Regions from separate parts of the Homo sapiens genome. Here region 2 is linked to region 1. Evidence: fine-mapped expression QTL. A gene starts in region 1. The other region holds a variant in brackets. All regions are shown on one strand. Distances are between the middles of the regions.

Region 1 (5,376 bases):
AACTGGTGGCAATCAGCCCAAGTGGGGTTATGGGTCTGGATAATAGTTTGGAGCAAATCAATTAGAGCTTGTGGCTTTTCAGTACAGGACGGGGTATTGTTTTTCCAGTTGAGAAGGTCGGCAGAGGTGAAGGGCTGGCACACAAAAACACGCCTCTCCGCCATGTGCCCATCCTCATCTATTCCAGTATACCGCTGCTCTCTCAAGGGCATTTGTATCCCCGTTTTGGGTCTTAAACGAGCTGCCAAGGGAGGGGTTTCTCCTGAGGCTTCACCTCCTCTCTTGTCTACTCTGGGTGGCCTAGGGATATGTTTGTCTTGCGGAGGCACAAGCACTGTGGACTCAAAAGTGGGGAGCCTCTCTCCCTGGTAAGGGGAGGGCACCACTGGGATGACTTTTGCCATCTCCTGCAATGGATCGTCTGATGTTGGGTCGAACAGAACTTCAGGAGTTGATTTCCCTCGGTGGGTGGAGCGGGATCCTTCCTTGACTATCTGTCCCTTTGCTACTAGCACTGCTGCTGCCTGCCCTCTTACCCACTGTGGTAACCAAGTGTCTATGTATGGAAACTGGTCTGAGTGTCCTGACTTACCAGTTACCTTGTGCCATACCTTAGAAACAAGGGACCTGTCCAGGCTTCCTTCTGATGGCCAACCCACTTCTAATGTTGGCCAATCTATTTCACACAAAGTTCTAAGTTTCCCTGGTGTCATAGTAACCCCATAGTCGCCATTAAATCCCTTCTTAAAATTTTTCAACATAGTTCCTAGAGGAGTAGGCTTATTTTGTGTCTGACCCGTGTTTCCTCAAGACAAAACACCAAGCTCACACCAAACGCACACCACAAAACAAAGAATGGGTAAAAAGGGCACACACGCACTTTTTCAGTTTTCACCAAACCAGAATCAAAACCAAAATCAGAGTATCCAGTAATCCAAGCCAGGTCAAACCAAAACCAAAGTGTCAAGCAATTCAAGTCAAGTCAAAAACAAAAACCAAAGTGCCAGTACAGGCACGCCGTGGGTGATCAGGCCATGCTTCCACTCAAATGGAGTGGGCAAGTTCCGAAGACCAGTCTTACCAAGTTTCAAATGTCCGGACTCCAAGTGCCTGTTCCTTCCCGGTGTTCAGCCACTGCGTTGATACTCCACGGGGGCCTGCCACGCACTGCTCTGACTAGGCGTTCCACCGGGGCAATTGCCTACCCAGGAGCGCTCGCAGGATCCGCGTCGCTCAAGCTGGCGGGAGTTCCCCGCAGGGATGCTCCACAGGGCAGGCCTAAGCCCCCTAAGGGGCTGCCTCGACTGTCCGTCAATTACCTCGCTTCCCAGTCAGGGAACCAAGAAATATAGCAGGATGAGTCACAGACAAAACTCCTCAGACACCAGATTAAAGCAGGAAGAGGTTTTTTATTCGGCCAGGAGCGTTGGCAGACTCGCGTCTTGAGAGCCGAGCTCTCCGAAAAAGAAATTCCTAGCCCTTTTAAGGGCTTACAACTCTAAGGGGTCTACGTGAAAAAATCATAATAGATCAAGTAAGCGTGGGAAACGTGACTGGGGGCTATATACATCAGCTAACAGAACAAAAAGTTTTACAGTGCTTTCTCATACAATGTCTGGAATTTACAGATAACACCAATAGTTTTGGTCAGGGGTTAATAATATTATTATTATCTTAGCCACCAGGGCCAGGTGGTGGTGCCAAGGTCGTCTAGCTATTTATCTTACTTCTGTTTCTTTCCAACTTTTTGCTTTCTCCCTTTTCTCCTGTCTTATAAACTAGGGAAAAGGGGAGGTTGGGGAGAAACTGAGAAGGACAACAGGAGAAGTGGTGACCTCATACCATAATCCTAGCATTTTGGGAGGCCGAGGTGAGAGAATCGCTTGAGGCCAAGAGTTCCCTACCAGTCCTGGTAACATAGTGAGACCCTATTTCTAAAAAAAAAATAAAAATAATAAAAAAAATAAAAAAAAAAATTAAATAAATAAATAAATAAATTAGCTGGGCGCTGTGGCGGGCACCTGTAGTTCCCAGCTACCGGGAAGGCTGAGGAGGGAGGATCGCTGCTTGAGCACAGTAGGTGGAGGCTGCAGTGAGCAGAGATCGCATCACTGCACCCCTGCCTGGGGGAGAGTGAGACCCAGTCTCAAAGAAAAAGCAAGAACAAACAAAAGTGGTCTCTGGAACAAACCTGGACAAACAACCCTTCGAATAGAGGCAAATTTCTCTTCCTGGAGAAGCCGTGCCACTGGCAACTCCCCAGGGGGCCAGCTCGGGAAAAGCCAGCTGAAACGAGAGGACGTTCACCGTTCCTCGCCTCGATCCACCGGACTTCAGAAGGCTACACGCGGCAGGCGCCGCTCGGGATCCAGGGGCCGGGGTGAGAACGGAGGCGGAGAAACCCCTCAGGCTCCGCCACCGGGGCGGGGAACTGGGAGGCGGCCCCGCCTCTGGGCATCCTCCTGGGTCTTGCCTAGCGGCGGGCGCATGCTTAGTCACCGTGAGGCTGCGCTTGCCCGGGGCCCGCGCCCCCCTACCCCGGGGACCGCCCCCGGGCCGCCCGCCCCACTTGGCGCGCCACTTCCGCGTGCATGGCCCTGCTGCCCCGAGCCCTGAGCGCCGGCGCGGGACCGAGCTGGCGGCGGGCGGCGCGCGCCTTCCGAGGCTTCCTGCTGCTTCTGCCCGAGCCCGCGGCCCTCACGCGCGCCCTCTCCCGTGCCATGGCCTGCAGGCAGGAGCCGCAGCCGCAGGGCCCGCCGCCCGCTGCTGGCGCCGTGGCCTCCTATGACTACCTGGTGATCGGGGGCGGCTCGGGCGGGCTGGCCAGCGCGCGCAGGGCGGCCGAGCTGGGTGCCAGGGCCGCCGTGGTGGAGAGCCACAAGCTGGGTGGCACTTGCGTGAGTACCGCCGGTTTGTTCGGGCGGGGGGCGCCTCTTTGTCTCGGTCTTTCGGGGGACAGCCTGTGCTCGTTCCTATGGCGATCCTGTCCCCCGGCGCTGGGCTTTCCTCTTTTCCACCCCCGCAACTCCCCATTCCGAAGCCAGGAACCCAGCAGGTGGAGGAGAGAGAGGCGTCCGGGGGCTTCTCTGCGGCCCGCAAAGCCGAGCCAGCGTCTGCTTCCGCACGGATGCGATATTGACCAGGGCCGGGGCGGGTTAGATTAACCTTCCTCCATCCTCACTTGTCCAAGTGGGAGAGGATTGGATTCTGTTCTTGACCGCGTGAAACACAAAACTGCATCTGGGAACATTGCTGGTGGCCTGTGTGTAGGGACGAGGGTGACGGTGCCATAGATCCTGGTTCTTGAAAAATGTAGATCCTGGTTCTCCCGTTTCAAGGGCAGAATGATTTATAGCGGTTGTTGTCAACCTTGGCTACACATTCGAATCACCTGAGGGTGCCTGGATTCCCGACTTAATTGGTCTGAGGTGCACTTGGGCTTTGGGATGTTTCCCGACTTAATTGGTCTGAAGTGCAGCCTGGGCTTTGGGATTTTCGGGTGATCTGAATTGCAGCCAAGGCGACCTTGAGTAGGTGAGTTCTCAGAGCTTTTGTTTTGTCTTGGTTTTATGTGGATTGCAAAACTAAAAACAGAGGGATGTAAATCCTGAGATTTACAAAATTCATAATTTTTGAAAATAAGGGTTTTTGTTTGTGTTTGTTTTTTGAGACAGGGTCTTGCCCTGTCACCTAGGCTAGAGTGCAGTGGCCATCATAGCTCACTGCAGCCTCGAACTCCCGGGCTCAAGGGATCCTCTCACCTTGGCCTCCTGAGTAGCTGGAACTACAGGGGGCTAATCACCACGCCTAGTTAATTATTATTATTTTTTGTAGAGATGGGGGTCTCGCTATGTTGCCCTTGCTGATTTCAACCTCTTGGACTCAACCGATCTTCCCGCCTCAGCCTCCCAAAGTGCTGGGATTACAAGCCTGAGCCACTGCACTCATTCTAAAAATAAATGTTGTTTCCAAGTTATTGGTGTGCCCGCCCTTTTCTATCACAAGATTTGGGTGTTGACGATTAAAATGCTGTATCCAAGAGGAACCTGGGATTTGGGATAGGTTCTCTAAATTCCTTTGGAGATGAATATTTAAATTATGTCAAATTGGGAGCTCTTTAAGGACAGGGATGGGCTTCTGTGTTTGTGTGTCTCTTATCACCTTAAAATCCCTTGCTCAATAAGCACTTGTGCAATGAATGAAACTAAAAATGGACAGTTATGAAAAGGTTGACTTCATTGTTCAGTGCCTTGGAGATGAACATGGAGATGAAGAGAAAGGAAAAATCTCTGTTAATTATCAACTTGCACTTTGACACCATAGTCCAGACAGAAGGTTAGAAATCTGTCTCTCCAGAAGGCAGATTGTGGGGTGCCACTAAGTGCCCCCCTCCCACACCTCATGAGAGTACTTGATCACTTCTCACTTCTGTTCTGCTCTCCACATTTTCTCTGTCTTCCTCTTTCTCTACTTATGTTATAATGTGCTTCAGAGGTTCACCCACTTTACCTTCCTGTTATGAATTCTTTTTTTTTTTTTTTTTTTGAGAGGGAGTCTCACTCTGTCACCCAGGCTGGAGTACAGTGGTGCAATCTGGGCTCACTGCAACCTCTGCCTCCCAGGTTCAAGCAGTTCTCCCGTCTCAGCCTCTCGAGTAGCTGGGAATGCAGGTGCATGCCACCATGCCCGGCTAGTTTTTGTACTTTTAATAGAGATGGGGTTTTGCCATGTTGGCCAGGCTGGTCTCAAACTCCTGACCTCTGGTAATCCACCCACCTTGGCCTCCCAAAGTGCTTGGATTACAAGCATGAGCCACCACACCCAGCTAATTTTTTATTTTTAAAATGTATTTATCTATTTTTTTTTCGATATGGAGTCTTGCTCTGTCACCCAGGCTGGAGTGCAGTGGTGCAATCTCGGCTCACTGCAACCTCCGCCTCCTGGGTTCAAGCAACTCTCCTGCCTCGGCCTCCCAAATTGCTGAGATTACAGGTGCCACTACACCCAGCTAACTTTTGTATTTTTAGTAGAGCCAGGCTGGTCTTGAACTCCTGACCTTGTGATCCGCTCACCTCAGCCTCCCAAAGTGCTGGGATTACAGGCGTGAGCCACCACGCCTGGCCTGTTTTTATTTTATTTATTGTTTTTTAGAAACAGGGTTTTGCCATGTTGCCCAAACTGGTCTCTTATGCCTGTGCTTAAGCAGTCGGCCTGCCTTGGCCTCCCAAAATGCTGGGATTACAGGCATCAGCCACCACTCCTGTCCCATTTTTTGTATTTTAAGTGCTGGGATTGGGGGTGGGTAGGGAGAAAACGATAGATATAAACATTTGTGAGACATGTCCCTTCCCTTAAGGAATTTTGTGGTTGTGAAAG
Region 2 (5,376 bases), 43 kb after region 1:
TCTGGGTTTTTTTGTTTGTTTGTTTGTTTGTTTGTTTGTTTTGAGACAGAGTCTTGCCGTGTTGCCCAGGCTGGAGTACAGTGTTGTGATCTAGCTCACTGCAACCTCTGCCTCCTGGGTTCTAGCGATTCGCCTACCTCAGCCTCCCGAGTAGCTGGGATTCCAGGCGTGTACCACCACGCCCGTCGAATTTTTGTATTTTTTTAATAGAGACAGGATTTCACCATGTTGGCCAGGCTGGTCTCGAACTCCTGACCTCAGGTGATCCACCCACCGTGGCCTCTCAAAGTGCTGGGATTACAGGCGTAAGCCACTGCGCCCAGCCTGAGGCGTATATATTTGATAGAGCTGCTTGAGCAGTGTATACCTTTTGACTTATGTTCTAATACTAAGTTCCTGTTGTAATGTGGATTCCTTTTCTGTTTCTGTAAAAGGTCATTTTTCTGCATGTTAACTTATAAAATATTCAGGGAGATGTTTTGATTGTTTGTAATCTTATTCAATGACATTTAGTAAAATTAATTGCCTATTTTCATATTAACAAAACTAGTCAGCCAGGCGCCGTGGCTCACACCTGTAATCCCAGCTCTTTGGGAGGCTGAGGCGGGTGGATCACCTGAGGTCAGGAGTTCGAGACCAGCCTGGGCAACGTGGTGAAATGCCGTCTCTACTAATAATACAAAAATTAGCCAGGCATGGTGACGCATGCCTGTAATCCCAGCTACTTGGGAGGCTGAGGCAGGAGAATCGCTTGAACCCAGGAGGCTGAGGTTGCAGTGAGCCGAGATCACGCCATTGCACTCCAGCCCTGGCAACAAAAGCAAAACTCCGTCTCAAAAAAAAAAAACCAAAAAAAAACACCAAAAGAAAACAACAACAACAAAAAACTGGTCATTCAGCTTTTCACCTTTCAAGAGATATTTTGCCATTGTACAGATGTAAGCACTGATAGGTCCAGTTTTCAACTAAATTTGCTAACTTTTTTTGGGGGGGTTGGATAGGGTCTTGCTCTGTCACCTAGGCTGGAGTACAGTGGTGCCATCATGGCTCACTGCATCCTTGCAGCATCAAACTCCTGGGCTCAAGCCATCCTTCTACCTTAGTCTCCCAAGTAGTAGGAACTACAGGCGTGGTCCACCACACCTGGCTAATTTTTAAAAAAAATTTTTGTAGACACAAGGTCTCGCTGTATTACCCAGGCTAATTTTGAACTGGGCTCAAGCGATCCTTCCACCTCAGCTTCCCAAAGTGCTGGGATTACAGGCATGAGCCATTGCACCCAGCCTATATTTGCTAAATTTTTGAAGAATGAGGCAAAAAAAAAAGGTTCAGTCTCATTTGACATTAAGATATATTTATATAATGCAAATTGAGTGATTACTATGTGCTAGGTCTTGTCAACATGTTACTAATCTAATTTAATCTTGCCAACAACCGGCAAGGTATAAGGAAGCCAGGAGCACAGAGATACTAGATAATTTACTGGGCTGTAAACTCTATGGTGTAGGGAGAATGTCTGTCTTACCATGGTATTCTCAGTGATGAAGTCAAAGTCTCATTTGTAATAGAAGCTTAAATATTTGTTGATAAACAGGTGGTTATACAAGGTCTCATAACCGGTAAGTTGCAGAGCTAGGATTTGAATTTTGGTCTGTCTGTACCAAAGGTTGTACTCTTTTTTTTTTTTTTTTTTTTTTTTTTTTGAGGCAGAGTCTCTTTCTGTTGCCCAGGCTGGAGTCAGTGGTGCCATCTCAGCTTACTGCAATCTCCGCCCCCTGGGTTCAAGTGATTCTCCTGCCTCAGCTTCCCAAGTAGCTGGGACTTGCCAAGTAGGTGGGCATGCACCACCATGCCTGGCGAATTTTTAGTATTTTTAGTAGAGACAGGGTTTCACCATGTTGGCCAGGCTGGTCTCAAACTCCTGACCTCAGGTGATCCGCCCGCCTTGGCCTCCCGAAGTGCTAGGATTTACAGGCCTGAACCACTGCGCCTGGCCAGTTGTACTCTTAAGCTCTGTGGCTACTTACTTCCTACTTCTGCCATATCTCTACTTCTCATATATACTTAGGATTTGCAAAGCCACATGATAAGCATAACATGTCTTCTTAAAGCAAAAATTTGACTACATATAGGAAAATATTTTTGGTTAAGGGAAACATCAATATGTGTTTTTGTTTTGTTTTGCTTTTACTTTTCTTCTGGGAGTCTGAAAAAAACATCAGTATGTTTTAGAGTAGAGTGCAAAAGTTGCTTGGATTTTTAAAGACAAAATGGTAAGCTTCATAGAAATGTGCTTTTGGCCAGGCATGGTGGCTCACACCTGTAACCCCAGTGCTTTGGGAGACCTAGGCGTGAGGATCACTTGAGGCCAGAAGTTTGAGGTCAGCCTGGGAAACAGCAAGACCTATTCTATAAAAAAATGTTAAAAAGGCTAGGCGTGGTGGTTCACGCCTGTAATCCCAACACTCTGGGAGGCCGAGGCAGGTGGATCACGAGGTCAGGAGATCAAGACCATCCTGGCTAACATGGTGAAACCCCGTCTCTACTAAAAATACAAAAAAATTAGCTGGGTGTGGCGGCGGGCACCTGTAGTCCCAGCTACTCGGGAGGCTGAGGCAGGAGAATGGCGTGAACCTGGGAGGCAGAGCTTGCAGAGAGCCTAGATCGCGCCAGCCTGGGCGACAGAGCGAGACTCCATCTCAATAAATAAATAAATAAATAAATAAATAAATAAATAAATAAATAAATAAATAAATAAATGTATGTTAAAAAATTATCCAGGTGTGATGGCACATGCCTCTAGTTCTAGCTACTCGGGAGGCTAAGCAGGAGGATTGCTTAAGCCCAGGAGGTCAAGATTGCAGTGAGCCATGATCACACCACTGCACTCCAGCCTGGGTAACAGAGCGAGACCCTGTCTCTAAAAAAAAACTAAATAAACATAGATATGCTTTTGGTGACTGCTTGAGTCAGTGTTCCTCAGGAGCAGTGCTTCCATGGGACAAGTTGAAAAGCTGGACTCCAGAGGGATTCCAAGTGGCACACCTGATAGTTGAGTGATCCTCTTCATGTCTGCCTGGCCAGTTGAATTGTACATTGCAATGTCAAATCCTGTTAAAACATCTCAAAAGTGGATAAAATACTACCTTTTATGTTAAGCAAGATATGAAACTTGCCAACTTTTTTTTTTCTAATTTCTAACAGAGGCAGGGTCTCACTGTGTTGCCCAAGCTGATCTCAAACTCCTGGGCTTAAGGGATCCTCCCTCTT[C/T]GGCTTCTCAAAGTTCTGGGGTTACAGGTGTGGGCCCACTGTACCCAGCTTGAAACTTGCCAGCTGTAAATGCCTTTCGTGTTGCAGCTGAGTCTCATGGTTTCTTGGAGATTCTGGCTGCAGTTCCCATGTGAAATGAGGAAGGGAGATCCAGAGGTTTGATCTACCTTTTTTAGTAGGTGGGCCAAGTGGTTACATGATATCTCTTTGTAATTTTAGGGGATTCAAACCGATGACAAGGGTCATATCATCGTAGACGAATTCCAGAATACCAACGTCAAAGGCATCTATGCAGTTGGGGATGTATGTGGAAAAGCTCTTCTTACTCCAGGTAAGGTCTCTTCCCTTCTTGGTGAGGGAGGGTCTGCGTGTTACATGATCCATCTGGCTCTTCACTGTCAAATCTGCAGTCTGCTTAAGCAAAGTTAAAAGGATGAGTGTCTTTATATTGTCAAAATGGTACAATGTGTTGAAATAGATATTGGTTGGATACCTGACATTATCTGAATAAAAGACTTAAAATGCTTAGCACAGACTGAAGTTTTCATGTAGACAATATGATCACCCGTTGCGGAACTCTCTTAGGAGCAGACTTGTGCTTGGTGGCAGTGGAAGGAAGTGGCATTTGGAAGAAGTAATTTAGATTGGCATTTTTTTTTTTTTTGGAGACACTCTGTTACCCAGGCTGGAGTGCAGTGGCATGATCACGGGCTCACTGCAGTTTCAACCTTCCTGGGCTCAGGTGATCCTCCCACCTCAGACTCCCAAGTAGCTAGGATCACAGGTGCATTTTTTGTAGAGACAGGGTTTTACCATGTTGTCTTGAACCCCTGTGCTTAAGCAGACTGCCTGCCTCAGCCTCCCAGAATGTTAGGATTACAGGCATGAGCCACCACACATGGCCTAGATTGTCATTCTTGTATGACTGGTCTTGATACAACCAAGACTGATTTCCTTCTCTCCGGCATCCCACACCTCAGCCCGCTTCCTAAGCACCATTGCAAGCTCTGTCCCATCTCTATCCATTAATGATCACTTGATCTACTTTCAGTCTGTACCTAGAACCTCATCAGCGATTCCAGCGTGTCCCAGGGCCTTATATCAGGATGAAAACCTACACCAGTCACACACCCAAACCCTTTTAGCTCCTTTAGAAAGTTCTTGCTCTTGGCTAGGTGTGGTGGCTCCCATCACTTTCAGAGGCTGAAGTTGGGGGATCGCTTGAGTCTAGTAGTTTGAGACCAGGCTGGGCAACATAGTGAGATGTTGTCTGTATTAAAAAAATAAAGATTCAGCTGGGCACGGTGGCTCACGCCTGTAATCTCAGCACTTTGTGAGGCCGAGGTGGGCAGATCACGAGGTCCAGAGATCGAGACCTTCCTGACCAACATGGTGAAACCCCATCTCTGCTAAAAATACAAAAATTAGCTGGGCGTGGTGGCACACGCCTGTAGTCCCAGCTACTTGGGAGGCTGAGGCAGGAGAATTGCTTCAACCCGGGAGGCAGAGGTTGCAGCGAGCTGAGATGGCGCCACTGCTCTCCAGCCTGGCAACAAGAGCGAGACTCTGTCTAAAAAAAAAAAATAATAATATAATAATAATGATAATAATAATAAAGATTCTAGGCGCAGTGGCTCATGCCTGTAATTCCAGCACTTTAGGGTTATAAAATAGAACTAAAGATGCTGAAAACTAATATAGCTTGTTCCATAAATATTGTATTAAAAAGCTAATATCTTCATTAAGTAGATTAACTGCCAGGTAAGTGAGAACTTGTGAATGTGTCTTTTGGGAGTGGGGCCAGACAGGTTGAGCATCCCTTATCTGAAATGCTTGGGACCAGAAGTGTTTTCAGTTTCAGATTTTGGAATATTTGCATATATATAATGAGATATTTTGCAGATGCGACCCAAGTCGAAACACGGAATTCATTTGTTTTACATACACCTTATACACATAGTTGGTAGGTAACTTTATACGATATTTTAAATGTGTGCATGAGGCATACTTTTGTCTGCGTTTTTGACTGCAACCCTTCACATGAGGTCAGGTGTGGAATTTTCTGCTTGTGGCATCATGGTGCTCCAACATTTTGGATTTTGGATT

Which allele goes with the higher level. Alleles are on the strand shown, and positions count from the first base shown. SD is a standard deviation of normalised expression in the study named.
For the expression in ileum of the gene that starts at base 2,581 in region 1, allele T in region 2 goes with a higher level than allele C (moderate effect, 0.57 SD a copy in CEDAR).

Evidence for each region. PIP is the estimated chance that this variant, and not a neighbour inherited with it, causes the effect.
Region 2: its variant is fine-mapped to the expression of GSR in ileum (CEDAR, PIP 0.91).

The regions. Positions count from the first base shown.
Region 1 is chr8:30,725,051-30,730,426 of GRCh38, reverse strand. It overlaps GSR (glutathione-disulfide reductase), which reads left to right and starts at 2,581. Exons shown (of 13, transcript NM_000637.5): 1 at 2,581-2,897. The coding sequence starts at 2,592. It also overlaps a transcript of UBXN8 not described here. RefSeq lists enhancers at 709-1,233, 2,996-3,683 and silencers at 2,321-2,410, 2,481-2,920.
Region 2 is chr8:30,682,313-30,687,688 of GRCh38, reverse strand. GSR (glutathione-disulfide reductase) reads left to right here. Exons shown (of 13, transcript NM_000637.5): 10 at 3,490-3,601. Among named protein-coding and RNA genes, the nearest start is that of GTF2E2, 27 kb to the right of the region's middle. The variant C/T (reference allele first, on the strand shown) is at 3,271.